2 separate regions of the Homo sapiens genome follow, and region 2 is linked to region 1. Evidence: fine-mapped expression QTL. A gene starts in region 1. The other region holds a variant in brackets. All regions are shown on one strand. Distances are from middle to middle. Region 1 holds the start of ZBTB40 (zinc finger and BTB domain containing 40). Region 2 overlaps ZBTB40 (zinc finger and BTB domain containing 40).

Region 1 (8,333 bases):
GTTGTGTTATTTCTTTTTTTCTTTTTAAATTTTTTTTTTTTGAGACAGTCTTGCCCCGTCATCCAGACTGCAGTGCAGTGGCGTGATTTCGGCTCACTGCAACCTCTGCCTCCCAGGTTCAAGCAATTCTCTTGCCTCAGCCTCCTGAGTAGCTGGGATTACAAGCCAGCACCACCATGCCCAACTAATTTTTTTTGTATTTTTAGTAGAGATGGGGTTTCACCATGTTGGCCAGGCTGGTCTTGAACTCCTGACCTCATGATCCGCCTGCCTCGGCCTCCCAAAGTGCTGGGATTACAGGTGTGAGCCACCGCAGCCGGCCGGTTGTTATTTCTTACTACGGCCAGGAACATGTTTTGTTGACCTCAGTGTTCTTGGCATATAGTAGTCACTCTGGAAACAGCTGGCAGTTTAGCAGAGGCACCTCGGGCATCTTACACTGGGTGGTGGCATGGGAACACTCTTTTCTAAAGTAGAAAAAAAGTTGAAAAGTTCTCAACCCTCCCCCTCAAAGTCAAGGTTTGGGTCCTTCTGGTGATCGGGAAGCACAGGTTATTTCTCCGCAGCTGTCGAAGCTCTGTGGGGAGATGAGGCCCTTACAAGGTCTAGAAGGTCTAGCCATTGTCTTCTTATTCTTCCATATCATGACCAGCCAGAAGCCAGAGCCATTGCTCTCCATGACAGTATGTCGTTGTTCATGAACTGTAGGCAAGTCAGCCCCATGAGAACTTCTGTTAATGCAAAACCTTAAGTAAATGGTGATGGGGAAACTGCAGCCACTGATCCACTGACTGTGGATACATGTGTGGGGTGTGTTGGGAGATGTCTAAAACAATCCCCCCAGGGAAAGATTCCTTTCCATATTTCCTAAATATTTTATAATAAGCATGTATTCATTTAAAAAAAGTTATAGAAAGCCTCTTCTTTGTCACTGCTGTCCCAATAACTGAGTACACTTGGTGGCCACTTTTCTTTTGCTCTCTTCGTTTAGTCCCTATAGGATTTGAAGTCTTGTTAAGTGGAACAGGAGGGACAGATGGTGCCTGAAAACTTATTCCTATTGAGACTCCTGAGCTTCAAGCCATCTGCATTCACATACAGCACATTGGCAATGATACTGTTTTTTAAAATCCATTAATTCGATAAATATTTCTCTTTTTTTTTTTTTTGAGACGGAGTCTCGCTCTCGTTGCCCAGGCTGGAGTGCAGTGGCGTGATCTCAGCTCACTCCAACCTCCGCCTCCCAGGTTCAAGCGATTCTCCTGCCTCAGCATCCTGAGTAACTGGGATTACAGGCACCTGCCACCATGCCCAGGTAATTTTTCTATTTTTAGTAGAGACGGGGGTTTCACCATGTTGGCCAGGCTGGTCTCGAACTCCTGACCTCAGGTGATCCGCCTGCCTCGGCCTCCCAAAATGCTCCCAAAATGCCCAGTGGCTCACACCTGTAATCCCATTAACTCGATAAATATTTCTAGAGCACCTACTATGTGCCAAGCACCCTTCTAGGTGTTTGTTTGCTAAATCTAGCAACCCTATGTTCCCACTAAAAGAGAATGTGAGGCTGGTGGAAATGAGGGCTTAGGAGACACAACAGCTGTAGGCGTGGTTCCAGTTACTACAAAAGTGACTAAATAACAGCTACAGTAAATCCGACCCTGAATGTAACGGTGACATGAGTATAATAGTGAAAGTGACTAACTGGGCACAAGGGTATGAGGACAACAGTGTACCCTGAAGGGGCCTGTTAAATACTGGCTTGACTGTGTGGCAGCAAAAGTGGCTGCATGACAATGACAGTGAAAACAACAGAAAGGGCAACAGCTGGGCAAACAAAGTGCTATTTTGAACAGAACCGTTTGAAGTTTATGGTCAATGACGGTAGCTGCATGTCAGACAGTGACAGTAAATATGATCGACCGGGAGACAGCAACAATGCAAGTGACAGTTCTGCCCAGTAGATTGAATTTGTGATGTAAAACGGTGATGGGGTGAGTCAGTCAGCCAGAGACAGCTCTCAGAACGACTGAATATTGACATTGCAGATGGAAAAGGTATAACCACAGAGGAAGCTGGACATTGCACTAAGATGGCTGGATTTGGGCACGTAACTGTCAGGGACAGAAAAAGTGGCTGCATGTCAGTGACAGGGTGACTGTGTTCAGTGGGCCAGCGCGGAGGTGACTCAGTTTGTTACTGCTGGATCTGATTTAAATGTTTGTGTAAGGAAGGGTGGCAAGGGGACGCTTCAACAGGGAACGCATAGTGTGTGAGAAGGAAAATGAGCAAAAGAAAAGCTAGGACTAAATCCCAAAGCCCCTAAATCCCAAAATTGGGAGGTGCGAGAGGCAGGATCAGGATGCCTCCAGGATGCCTTCAGCCCACTGCGCCCCACCAGCGCCAAGCCTGTCCCACAAAGAGTGCGGGCTGGGGACGCGGCTCAGGTCGCCTCTCCGCCTCGCACGTGAATGTGTTGTTTTGGAAAAACGAAGCCTTTTGTGTTCACTTCCTTGCCCTCCTTTGAAACAAAATCCTAATCCTAGAGCTGCCGGAGCGAGACTGCGGAGCTCCATTAGAACTTTCCTTAGGGCCGGGCATGGTGGGAGGCCGAGGCAGGTGGATCATCTGGGCTCAGGAGTTCGGGACCAGCCTGGCCAACATGGTGACATCCTGTCTCTACTAAAAATAGAAGAGAAAAAAAAAATTAGCAGGGCGTGGTGGCGCGCGCCTGTAATCCCAGCTACTCGGGAGGCTGAGGCAGGAGAATCGCTTGAACCTGGAAGGCGGAGGCTGCAGTGGGGCGAGATCGCGCCGCTACACTCCAGCCTGGGAAACAAGAGCGAATCTCCCATCTCAAAAAAAAAAAAAAGAAAAAAACTTTACTTAGGAAGTGTGGGGAGGGAAGGAGGGAGTGGCCAAGGTCAGAGGTCAGAGAAGAGCCTAGCAACCAGCCGGCCCCCGCCGTCCTAGCATAGGTGGAGAGCGAGCGCGTGACGCAGGCCCCGCCCCCAGCACGTGACCGCGGCGCGTGGGGCAGGTCGGGCCGCCCCCTCCCCTCTGATACCCATTGCGCGCCGGCCTCAAGATGGCCGCCTTCTGGCGTCTCCGGCGCTGTTGAATGGCGAAAGCTTTATTGTTCCCTTCGGGCAGGAGTGTTCGTGTCCTCTATGGCGCTGTCAATAAAGAACGGCAGTTTGAATCGGTGCTGAACAGGTAACCATAGAAACGGGGCTGGGACTCCGCGTGGAGACCCTTCCTGCAGCGGGGGCCCGGGTGCGCCCTAAATGAGGGGTGTATACAGACCCTTCCGCGTGGCGAACTCCGCGGGACTCGGCCGAATCACGGCCGCCTCACCTACACCCCGGACGTGCCCCCTCCAGGGGCGGTCCGCACCCCTGGCGCCGGCTCTGCTGTAGACTGCGGAGGGGAGAGACCGCGGGGACCCACTCAGGGCGCCAGGCCCGACCTGACACCGCCTGGGGCTCGCTGTCGCCCCGCACCTCCCTCTCGGCCCGTCCGGAGGCCTCTTGTCGCTGTCTCACTCCCCCTCCCTTCAGGTCCCTTCGCCGGGCGTCAGCGGACTATGGCCTTGGGCCTAATCCATGCCCCCCTTCTCTCTTCCCCTCTCGGTCTTTGTTTACAGTTGCAAATGGTTAGGGGGAAGAATATTTCATGTAATTTGCGAAAGTTCTATGAAATCAAGTCCATAAATGAAGTTTTATTGGAACACGGCCCTGTTCATTGTTGATGTATTGTCTATGGCTGCTTTCCTGCCAAGAGGGCAGAGCTGAGTAGTTGCGCAGCCGTTGCTTGGCTTTGATCGGCTGGCTCACAAAGCCAGAAATATTTCTGTCTGGTCCCTTACAGCAAAAGTTTACTGACCCCTGCCCTAAACACAAGGAGATTGGATCAGTGTTGTCATTCAGCTATTCCTCTCGTCGGTTCTTCTGGAGTGGGAAAAGAGTTAAAACTGCGCGATGCACCGAGAGCACTTTAGTTGACAGAACACTCTGGCTTCCCTTCTGGTCTTACTGACTATTCAGAGTTTCTCCTGCTTTGAATAGCGTTGGTACCATGCAGCCAGTGCTGCAATGAACCAGGTGCTTTATTTATATTCATACAAGTGTTGTTCTACTTTATGACGACGCTTTATAAGTAAGTATGGTATTTCCATTTTACAAACGAGGAAGAAATTTGTTCTGAGTGGTTAATATATGTATAGGTGTACTAGGTTATAGGGCTGCCAAATTGAGCCTGTCCCTGGGAGCCCCCTGCCTGATGGCACCGGTCAAACTGCTTTGGATTTTATTCTTTCAAGTCTTTTCTACCTGGAATTGTTTGTTCTTCCCTGGAATTGTACCCAGATCTTTGTATGGTTAATGGAGATTTAATTACAATCTCAGTGAAATTTTTTTCTACTTAGCTAAATCATCAAACTTCTGCCCCTCCTTTCTAATATAAACACTTTTCTTCTATGTCAGTAGTCCCCAAACTTAGCTATTCATTAGTGGTTTAACAAATGGTTTCAGAACACCCCATGCATGTACGCATGCATTCATTAATCATTTAGTGTTTGTTGAGCACTTACTGTGTACCAGAGACGTTTCAAATTCCTGGAAATACAGTGGTGAACAAGACAAATATGATTTCTGCCCTTCCATGGAATTTAAATTCTATGTGGGGCTTGGACAAGTGGTATACAGGTAGACAAAGATAATTTCAAATACAGCTGTAATAGCATCATCATAATAAAATTATTAGTTGCTATTTACTGAGTGATTATTTTGTGCCAGGTACTGTGCTAAGTGCTTTATTTATATGGACTATCACTTAATCCTCACACCAATACTATGACATAAGTAGTATTAATATTACCATTTTACGCATAGAGGAAACAAACTCACGTCGGAGAGATGTTCGAGGTTACATAGCTAAGGCATTCAGCTGAGAGCTGAAGCTAATCTGATCACACTGAACACCCTGTATTGTTCCATCTGTTTATTGTCTTTCCTACTAGCTTAGGAGGTCCTTAAGGGCAGGGACCACACCTTACTGTTGTTATCCTCAGCTGCTAGCCAGTACCCACAACCTGGTGTTTGCAGGTAAATACCAAGTAAACAAATCTAGGTCATTCATTGAACAAATTTTTATTTTATTTTATTTTATTTATTTTTTTGAGACAGAGTCTCGCTGTGTTGCCCAGGCTGGAGTGCAGTGGCACAATCTCGGCTCACTGCAACCTCCGCCTCCCGGGTTCAAGTGATTCTTCTGCCTCAACCTCCTGAATGGCTGGGACTACAGGCATGTGCCACGACACCCGGCTAATTTTTTGTGTGTTTTTAGTAGAGACAGAGTTTCACCATGTTGTTCAGGCTGGTCTTGAAGTCTTGACCTCAAGTGATCTGCCCGCCTCAGCCTCCCAAAGTGCTGGGATTATAGGCGTGAGCCATCGCGCCCGGCCTCGAACAAATATTTTAGTGTCTCCATGTACCAAGCACCACTGTCTAGGTCCTGTGATTACCAGGGTGAGCAAGATGGACCTGGGGCTCTGTTCTGGAAGCTAAAGCCTAGTGTCAAGACAGTAAAGAAATAACAAAGTTATTCCAAATTGTGGCAACTGCTCTAAAGGAAATAAAACAGCACGGAGAGAGACACTAACCTGGGAGACTCACTTTTTATCTGGGTGGTCAGGGAAAACCTCTCTTAAGAAAGGCAGTTTAAGCTGAAACTTGTTGAGTGACAAGGAACCAGTCTAGCAAGAAGGGGAAAGGGAGAGACGAAGCTGGGAGGAAGAACTTTTCAGCAGGTTCAGAGACTAAGGTGGGTAACAACGTGAGATGTTGGAGAACTCAAAGGGAGTCACTGTGCTGTGGTTCACTCCTGTGCTCAGTCCCTGGCCGTGAACCCAGCTACTACTGAGAGAACTGCACGCCCAAGGGCAAGTTACAGATTAGTTATCTGACCTGGAAAATGTGGATAATGGTGCCTCCTCAAAGGGTTGTGCAGATTAAATAAGAGAAACTGTATTCATAGCTATGGTATTTTCTTTTTGTTGTTGTTACACATATTGCTGAATAACCAAATTTAGCTCCAAATGGAAACTTTATAAAGTGCTAACTAATAACAAAAATCCAGAAATACATTACAGACAAAATTAAGAATGGGGGAATCCAATTAAAAATAGAAGCCCTCTACTTTCTATCTCCAGAAAGAGGGGAGCAGATCTTGTTTTTTCTTAGTGTTTCTGCTTGGAGAGGAACTTTTCCAAATGGCATCTAATTTTTTTAAAGCCAAATTGTACAGCTGTCTATGCAGAACACTTTTCAGCATTTTAGTGTTTTAAGTTGGAAACTACTTATGTTCCTCCATCAAAGGTGTATGTATTCTCTTAAGGCATTCTAAACAAATGTTAGACTTTTAGTTGGTGGCGATTTAAAAATTTGTTTGTGCATGATTTCAAGTTTCCTCCAAAAGTTTTCAAAATAATGTCACATACTCTAAAACAGTATTGAATGCTTTGAGGCAAATGGCAGGCTTTTTGACTAAGTAAAAATAGGATAATGTTCGGGTTCATAAATGTAAGAAATTAGAAGCAATAATAAATCAAGGGAACTATGTAAGAAGAACAGCATGGCAGGTTTCGCTTTAAACTCTCCCTAGTAACCATATTGCACATGTCATCAGAAGACACATTCTAACCCTGCAAACGGAGCAAAGAACTGGACAGAGAGTGTCATTTAATGCAATGTTAAACAACAAGCCCTGAATTAAATTGCTATTTTAGGTTTGGGTGGGACCTTTGCATCTAAAGTATTGCAGTTTTACTCTGTGATTTGGGTCTGTTGGGTTCCAGTAAAGAGCAGGTGCTAACACTAGCTTTGAAGGATAGTATGAAACTGCAAGAAGAGCCAGGGCATACCAGTTTGTTTTTCAGTCTATTTTATTTCAGTTCAAAGCATCATTGCAGACAGGCAGCCCCGGAAAACGAGCCACACTTTGGCAACACTCACCTGCTTTTGGAGATTGAGGAAGACTGAGTATAACCCAAGTGTGGCTTGTTTTCTTGGACTATCTGTCTGCAATGATGCTTTGAACTGAAATAAAATAGATTGAAAAACAAATTAGTATGCCCTGTTGCCTCGTACTGAGTATTTACATTACCCTTCTCGAGTACTGCCTGAACCAGCACCCTGAGGGAAGGCAGTGACCCCTCAGCCTCTTTCAACTCTTCAGCAGAGTGAGCTCTTTGATTTTCACAAGGAAATTGAATTGGGATATATGGTTTTCTGGATCTCCAATAGTCTGCCTTCCAAAGCCATCATCTGGATAATGTGGAGAAAGCAAGCTACTAACCACATAGAGGAAAGAATTAAATATTAAGGGCATTTAAATTGAGAGATGAGATTGTCACTTTCTGTAAGTCTAGCAGAGAGTGCAGTATTTCATTTGCAGGGAGCATGCAGTTTTGAGACTCTGGCAGCCCTCGAGAGAGAAGGATAAGGAAAGAAAGCCAGCTTTCCTTACATTTCCCTAATGTTGTTATTTAACTCCAAATCCTCAAAATTATGATGCCACGTATTTCATTTCCTTACATAAATGTATTATGCTGATCCATGTAAGTCAGAGATTGTTAATCTCAGGGTAAATGGTTGAATTTCAAGAGACCCATGAATCCTTTGAAGTTGCCTGCAAATTTGTGTGAATGTCATTTTTTCTGGGGAGAGAGCCAGTTACTTTAATCTGATCTCAGAAAGGCCCTTGACCCTTTAAAAGGTGCAGAACCAACAATGAAACATCACATGTAACATCACCTAACTGAAGGCGCGATGAGAATCTCCCCTGAAACCAGGTACTGTTTCACTGCTCTGTAACCTTAATCTCAGATTTTAAGTCTTTTCAGGCTTTGTTTTCTGTCTAAAGTGGTCAAGCATAGTTGAATGTTTGTGTAACATAGATATCTGCCCATTGAACTGCTTCATAAATGCCTTACAGATGGTTGTTGTTAATTTACATGAGACTGGTGAGATGTGGACCTATTGTCTAGGCAACCTCGTTAGCAGATATCATAACTGTTTCTACTGATAGAGGAAAGGAGGAGGTAGTGGAAGCTCACTGCTTTGTTTCTAGGCATCAGCTTCTTGCAGATGGAGTCAGTTCCTCAGACTTAACGAAGGCTGGGTTAAAAGGGAAAGAAGGCTGGGCACAGTGGCTCATGCCTGTGATCCCAGCACTCTGGGAGGCTGAGGCAGGAGGATCACTTATGCAAGCCCAGGAGTTGAGGCTGCAGTGAGCTGTGATCAGACCACTGCATTCCAGTTGAGACCCTGTCTCTA
Region 2 (8,333 bases), 31 kb after region 1:
GCTGGTCTCGAACTCCTGACCTCGAGTGATCCACCTGCCTCGGCCTCCCAAAGTGCTGGGATTACAGGCGTGAGCCACTGCGCCCAGCCAGGAATTTCTTATATATTCTAGATATCAATTCCTTATTGCCTTTAAACTTTGCAAATATCTGCCATTTCTGTCATTTGTCCATCTGTCTCTATTATCCTTTGACAGAAACCTTTAATACCTATACAGTCAAATTTATTTTCTTTTTTCAGCTTTCGGGGCATTGTTTCAGAAGTCTTTGCCTTCTGTTTCAAAGGTCCCCTCTGACATTTTCTGCTATTAGCTTTTATAGATTTACTTTTCACATCCAGGTCTTCCTCATGTGGTTTGTAATTATGAGCTTCTTTTCTGTGTCGTTGTTGTTGTTGTTGTCGTTTTTTGTATTTTTAGTAGAGACGGGGTTTCATCGTGTTAGCCAGGATGGTCTCGATCTCCTGACCTCGTGATCTGCCCGCCTCGGCCTCCCAAAGTGCTGGGATTACAGGCGTGAGCCACCGCGCCCTGCCCTTTTCTGTGTTTTTCTTTTTCTCTATGTGAGTCCCTGTGTTTTTTCTGCTGCATGCTAGAGACCAGTTTTTATGTTAATTTCTTGACTTGAGATTCCTGTATGATACAGAGTATAAATTTGGATGCTATACCTCTGTATGGCATAGACATGCATTTTACCTTTTTTCCTGCTGATGGCCTAGATAATAAGCAACTTTTATTGCTGTTTCCCTGAGCCAGTGAGCAGATTTTTGAGACTGCATATCAAGGAAGGATCAGCATTTGAGGCTCTGGGCTTTATGCAAGGGTCTCAGTGCTAACTCCCCACCTTCTACCTGCCTGAAGCTACATTTGCAGTCTCCATGTGAGTATTAATGCTTCCTCCTCCCAGCTTAGGGCCTGTACAGGAGTTTGAAACCCCTGTAGGCCACCATGGTCTCAATTCCCACTTACTGTTCTAGCTTTGATTTTGATGTTTCTTTCATTTCAGGTACCTAGGGATTTCTTTTCTTTAATTTTTTTTCAAGCCTATGTATTTTAAAAGCATTTTTATGTTTTATCCAGCATTTCTGTGTATTTGTAGTGGGAGAAAAAGAGCCATTTACTTCAGCTCAGTGTGCCATTTTGCCAAAAGTCTGTTTTTTAATTATTATTGCATTAATCTCAGTAAATTTTCAATTTTAGACATTGCCAACTTAGATTCATTATGTAGCCATTGACCACCCTTGAATGTTTTAGGCCTTAACGGTTCCCATTTTCCTTTCATTGCTCAAGCTTATAATCACCTTTTTAGTATCTATATATTGGTAAGCCAGATAATTAGGTTCAGTTTTCTTTTTAACCTTGCCCAGTTGCTCATTCTGCTGAAGTTTTTCTTTTTCTCTTCTTATTTAGTTGTTCACAAAAACATTAAATAGCTCTGACCACATAATGCTTGAAATATCTCCCTCTGCATCTTGGGTGAATCTTCTCTTGTTTAATCTGATGTGGGTACCCTCCCCAGAAACTTAAAAGCAACCTTTTAAGTTTGAGTCTATCCCGAAAATATAATTCCAGTCACTTGTTTCTTACTAATAAGAATGTTTAAAAAGATCTAATGTATGTCCAGGTAAGTCTTTTGGTTTACTGTAATCCGTAAGACTTATGTCTTGTTTTACCAAAAAAAAAAAAAAAAAAAAAAAAAAAATCACATTACATTGGTGTAATTTGTTTCTTAGAAAAACCTCATCAGTGCCTGTTTATGGTCTTTTGTTATTTGCAAATTGAATTCTTGTTCAGATTTTTCTCAAATATTAATTTAAATATTTATTTAAATATTAAAACTAGAAAAAAATGTTTTTCTAGTTTTAAATCTTATGGAATTTTCCCCTCCTCTTTCCATAAAACACCAAGAGATAAAAATTCCAGTCGCCTACTAGAGCTACTTCTATTAGATAAAAGCCACTTACCTCCTAGGACTGTTCTTCATTTGTTTAAAAATATATGTGCATTTTTATAATATAGATTAAAACAGACTGTATTCAAAAAGTAGGGGTAGACATTCTTAAAGATTTTCTTTGAGCAAGCTGAAAACAATCATATGAATTCATGAATGCCCAACAATATTAGGTACATGGTATAGAAGGGGCTTGGGGTAGTTAGAACTGAAACATTTATATTTATTTCAGCAAATCTTTATTTTAATTAATAAACTATTTTTTTAGAGCAGTTTGAGGTACATGCAAAATTAAGCGGAAATTACAGAGGGTTTGCAGATCCCTCCCCACTCCCATTCTCCACACATGCACAACCTGTCCCACCATCCATGTCTCACACCATATTGGTACATTTCTTATAATTGATGAACCTACATTGACACATAATTCTTACCCGGAGTCCATAGTTTACATCAGGGTTCACTGTTGGTGTTGTGCATTCTGTGGGTTTTGACAAATGTATAATGACTTATATTTGCCATTGTAGATTCATGAAGAATAATTTCACTGCCCTAAAAATCCTCTGTGCTTTGCTTATTCATCCCTCCCTCTCCTCTAACCCCTGGCGATCACTGGTCTTTTTTACTATCTATATATTTACCTTTTCCAGAACGTCATATATTTGGAATTATAAAGTATGTAGCATTTTCAGATTGACTTCTTTCACTTAGAAATATGCATTTAAGGCCGGGTGCGGTGGCTCACGCCTGTAATCTGTAATCCCAGCACTTTGGGAGGCCGAGGCAGGTGGATCACGAGGTCAGGAGATCGAGACCATCCTGGCTAACACAGTGAAACCCGGTCTCTACTAAAAATACAAAAAAATTAGCCAGGCGTGGTGGCGGGCGCCTGTAGTCCTAGCTACTCGGGAGGCTGAGGCAGGAGAATGGTGTGAACCCGGGAGGCAGAGCTTGCAGTGAGCCGAGATCACGCCACTGCACTCCAGCCCGGGCGACAGAGCAGGACTCCGTCTCAAAAAAAAAAAAAAAGAAATATGCATTTAAGTTTCCTCCCTGTCTTTTCATGGCTTTATGTCTCATATCTTTTTAGCACTTTTTAGTCCATTGTCTGGATGTACCACAGTTTATTCATTATATCTACTTCTTGGTTGCTTCCAAATTTTGGCAATTATGAATAAAGCTGCTTTATAAGTATCATGTGTAGGCTTTTGTGTGGCCATAAGTCTTCAACCCCTTTGGTTAATTACCAAGGAATGTGATTACTAGATCATGTGGCAAGAGTATGTTTGGTTTTGTAAGAAACTGTTAATCTGTAGAATGTCTGTACTATTTTGCATTCCCACCGGCATTGAATGAAAGTTCCTGTTTCTCTACATCCTCGTCAGCATTTAGTATTCCCTGTGTTTTGGATTTTGGTCATTCTGATAGGTGTGTGATGGTATCTTGTTTTAATTTGCAATTCTCTAAAGACATACCATGTACAACATCTTTTCATTTGCTTATTTGTCATCTGCATATCTTCTTTGATGAGGTGTCTGTTCAGGTCTTCTGCTATTTTTTAATTGGGTTGTTTTCTTATTGTTGAGTTTTGAGAGTTCTTTGTGTATTTTGGATAATAGTCTTTTATCAGGTGTGTTTTTTGCAAATATTTTCTCCCAGTCTGTGGCTTGTCTTTTCATTCTTTTGACATTGTCTTTCATGGAGCAAAATTTATTTCTGTCATGGATTGTGCCTTTGGTGTTGTACCTAAAAAGACTGCCATAGCCAAAGTCAACTAAGTTTTCTCCTATGTTAACTTCTAGGAATTATAATTTTGTATTTTACATATAGGTCTCTGATGTATTTTAAGTTAATTTTTGTGAAGGGTGTAAGGTCTATGTCTAGATTCATTTTTTCGTATGTGAATGTCCAGTTGGTTCCAGCATCACTTGTTGAAAAGATACTCTTTGCTTCATTTTAGTGCCTTTGCTCCTTTGTCAAAGATGAATTGACTATATTTGTGTGGGTCTGTTTCTGGGCTTTCTGTTCTGTTCCACTGGTCTACTTGTCTATTCTTTCACCAATACCACATTGTCTTCATTATTGTAGCTTTAAAATAGTAAATGTTGAAGTCATTATCAGTCCTCCAACTTCAGTCTTCTCCTTCAATATTGAGTTAGCTATTTTGGTCATGGGGAAGATCTGAGTCTCTGAAAATATTGAATATTTCTATCTAACAACATGGGATATCTCTCCATTTTTAAAGTTCTTTGATATCTTTCATCAGAGTTTTGTTGTTTTCTTCATATAGATCTTGTACATATTTTGTTAGATTTATACCTAAGTATTTCTCTTTTTGGGGTGCTAGTGTAAATGGTAAAGTTTTTAATTTCAAATTCTACCTTATTGCTGGTATATAGGAAAACAATTGGCTTTTGTATATTAACCTTATGTCTTACAACTTTGTTATAATCTCTTATTAGTTCCAGGAGGTTTTTTGTCATTTCTCTTTAATTTTCTGTAAAGACAATCATGTAGTCTGCAAACAAAGACAGTTTTAACTTCCTTCCCAATCAGTATACCTTCTATTTCCTTTTCTTGTCTTGTTGCATTAGCTAGGACTTCCAGTACAGTGTTTAAGATCAGTGGTGAACTGGGATATCCCAGCCTTGTTTATAATCCCAGCAGGAAGACTTTGAGTTTCTCACCATTATGAGTGATGCCAGCTGTAGGTTTTTTGTAGATGTTCTTTATGAAGTTGAGGCAGTTCCCCTCTATTTCTAGTTTGTTGGAGTTTTTATCATGAATGGGCATTGGATTTCTGCCAGATGCTTTTTCTGCAGCTTTCTGTTGACATGTTCACATGATTTTTCTTCTTTAGCCTGTTGATGCGATGGATCACATTAATTGATTTTGAATGTTGAACCAGCCTTGCATACCTGTGAGAAGTCCCATTTGGCTATGATGTATAATTCTCTTTAGGCAT[T/A]GTTAGAGTCAAGTTGCTAATATTTTGTTGAGGATTTTTGCATCTATCTTAACGAGAGATACTGGTCTGTGGTTTTCTTTTCTTGTAATGTCTCTGTGTGGTTTTGGTAGAGGGTTAATGTTGGCCTCAAAGAATGAGTTGGGAAATATTCCCTCTGCTTCTATCTTCTGGAAGAGTTTGTAGAGAATTGGTATAATTTCTTTCTTAAATATTGGGTGGAACTCATTAGTGAACACATCTGGGGCTGTTGCTTCCACTTTGGGGAGGTTATTGTTGATTCACCTACTTTAATAGATATAGGCCTATTCAGATAGTCTATTGCTGCGTGTGTGAGTTTTGACAGATTGCATCGTTCAAGGAATTGGATCATTTTATTTAGGTTATATTTGTGGACATTCATAAATTACCTTATATTTTTAATGTATATGGGGTATACAGTGATACTGATATTAATAAATTGTATTGTCTATTTTTTTTTCTTTGTTACCATGGCCATCTTTGATTTTCTGACATTTGAAAACTATATGCCTAGGCTCAATGTCTTGAGTTTCCTGGATCTGTGATGTGGTGTCTGTCATTAATTTGGGGAAATTCTCAGTCATTATTGCATCAAATATTGCTGCTTTTCTCTCTTCCCCTTCTGGTGTCCCCATTTTGCATTAGTTATTTCTTTTCTAGTCTTCCCACTGTTAGATATTCTGTTCTGTTTTCTTCTTCTTTTTTTACTTTGCTTTTTCGTTTTGGATTGTTACGTCTTCAAGCTAGGAGATTCTTTCCTCAGTCGTGTCCAGTCTACTAATGAGCTCATCAAAGGCAGTCTTCATTTCTGTTATGGTGTTTTTTATCTCTAGCATTTCTTTTTGATTCTTTCTTAGAATTTCCATTTCTCTGCTTACATTATCCATCTATTCTTACATGTTTTGTACTTTTTCCATTAAAGCCCCTGGCTATTTAATCATAGTCTTAAAAAAAAAAAATCCTGGTGTGCTAATTCGGACATTCTTGCTATATCTGAGTCTGGTTTTGAAGTTTGCTCTGTCTCTCCAAACTGTTTTTGGGTTTTGTCTGTTTGTTTGTCTTTTAGTATGCCTTGTAATTTTTTGTTGAAAGGTGGACATGATGTACTGCATAAAAGGAACTGCTATAGCTAGGCCTTTAGTGATGTGGTAGTAGGGTGCAGGGGAGGAGAAGCTTTCTGTAGTCCTGGGATTCAGTCTCAATCTTTTGGTGAGCTTGTGCCCCTGGGCTGTGAACTTCCCAAGTGCTCTCAGGCTTTTTTGCTCCTTAGATGGTACAGGATGGCTAGAGGGAGCTGGAGTTGGGTATTTGTTTTTTTCCAGGTAGGTTAGGCTCTGAGAAAACTGTAGCCAGTTAGGCTCTTGTAAAATAGTTTTCTTGAAGGCAGGCCTTGTTAAAAACAGAGTGCTCTGGCAGATTTCAAAATGGTTCCTTTTCCCTCTCCCGCTGCTGGAAGCAAGAGGGGATTTTTCTTCACTATTCGTTGTGAGGACTTGTTAGAGCTCTAGGAGGTAAAGCTCACAGAAGTGTTGGGGGACCCCTATGACTGAGTCCCCCCCAGAGTTTTTAACTCTCAGAGTTGTGCACACTGAGCCTCCAGTGATTCGATTGCAGTTCAGGTTTTCTTAACCTGGCACTTGTTCCTACAGAGGCGTTTGTTCATACATTTTTTTTGTTTTGTTTTGTTTTGTTTTGTTTTGTTTTTTGAGACGGAGTCTCCCTCTGTTGCCCAGGCTGGAGTACAGTGGCATGATCTGGGCTCACTGCAGCCTCTGCCTCCTAGGTTCAAGTTATTCTCCTGCCTCAGCCTCTGAATAGCTGGGGTTCCAGGTGCCCGCCACCATGCCTGACTAATTTGTGTAATTTTAGTAGAGACGAGGTTTTGCCATGTTGACCAGGCTGGTCTCGAACTCCTGACCTCAAGTGATCCGCCCGCCTCAGCCTCCCAAAGTGCTGGGATTACAAGCGTGAGCTGCTGCGCCTGGCTTGTGTTTTTTGTTCAATAAGTTGTGATTCTCTGTGTCTGCCTGTCTGTCTCTAATTTTAGGAACAGTGATTTGCCCTGTGACCTTTCTTTTCTGACGAATTAAAGAAGAGTTGTTGATTTTTCAGTTTGTTCAGTCTGTTTGCTTTTAGGACGTGGTGACTTCTAAGCTCCTGACATACCAGAATGGAAACTGGAACTCTGAAATATTTTTATTTATATTTTTATCTGTCAATTTCAGTGTCAGTAAATGTAGAAATGGTGGAGTGGAAAGAGAATCATCCATAATCCTCTAACAAAAGCAATTACTGGTTTTTTGACATATGTCTTTCCGCCCTTTTCTTAGCGTACTTTTTTCTTTTACAAGTGAGATTACATAATTTCCTCAAACATCCTCAAAGATAAGATCCTCAAACCCAAAACTGAACTAGATGTCTCTTCCCCTAAACTGTCTGTTCTTGTATTATCTGGATCATCTTATCATCCACCCATTCACCAAGCCAGGAACCTGGGAATTGTTTCTCTCTGTCCTTCACATCCATTCAGTCCCTAAGTCATGACAGCTATACTTTGCAATGTTTTTTTGGCTCTCTCCTATTACCAGTTCTCCTGCTTGAAGCCCTCATTGATTTTCTCCTGATCTCCTGCAATAATAGAGCCCGTCTCCAGCATTATCCCCCTCAAATTCTGTACACATGTTACTTAGGTGGTATATTTAAAATGCATATCTGACCACATGACTTTGCTGCTTAAAGCCTTTCAAATGCCTCAATGGCTGCTCATTGCTTTTAGGATAACCTCCAAGCTCGTAAGCATGGCCTATATATCCCTCTGTGGCCAACACCCCTGCCTGCCTCTCCAGATTCATCTCTTAACACTCCTATTCCCTGCTTTATGTTCCAGTAATAATCTCAGTTCCTAATCCTCCTGCCTGCTACCACGGGATGTTTTCTTATCTGCATGCCTCATGCAGGCGTCCCTGCCAGGATTGCCTTTTCCTCCCATTCTTTTTACCTCATCTGTGCGTCCGTATCTTTTAAGACACAGGTCAGCTGTTTTTCCCTCAAAGCTTTACTCTAACTCCTGGACTCTCCTATCCCCCAAACTGTGTTTGTGTGTACAAATCCATCATTATGTTGCCTTTTAGTTATTTATTCATTCTACCAAGTAATCAACAGTATTTGTGTTAAGCAGAATTTTAAGCACTGGGATACAGCAGGTGATAAAATTAAGTTCTTACCCTAATGGAGCTTACATTCTAGTGAAGGAAGATAGATAATAACAAATAAAAATATAGTATGTCAGTAGGCGATAAGTGCTATGCTGAAAAACAAAGCAGACGAAGGAGCGGGATGTTCTGAGGTTGGAGGGGAGGTTGCTTGTTGAAAAAACATGGTCAGGAAAGGCCTTACTGCTAA

What was found.
Region 2: its variant is fine-mapped to the expression of ZBTB40 in whole blood (TOPMed, PIP above 0.99).

What each region holds. Positions count from the first base shown.
Region 1 is chr1:22,448,792-22,457,124 of GRCh38, forward strand. It overlaps ZBTB40 (zinc finger and BTB domain containing 40), which reads left to right and starts at 3,060. Exons shown (of 18, transcript NM_014870.4): 1 at 3,060-3,213. RefSeq lists silencers at 2,305-2,599, 2,914-3,113, 3,454-3,543 and enhancers at 2,989-3,550, 3,264-3,343.
Region 2 is chr1:22,480,117-22,488,449 of GRCh38, forward strand. The region is part of intron 1 of ZBTB40 (zinc finger and BTB domain containing 40); the gene reads left to right. Among named protein-coding and RNA genes, the nearest start is that of ZBTB40, 32 kb to the left of the region's middle. The variant T/A (reference allele first, on the strand shown) is at 4,914.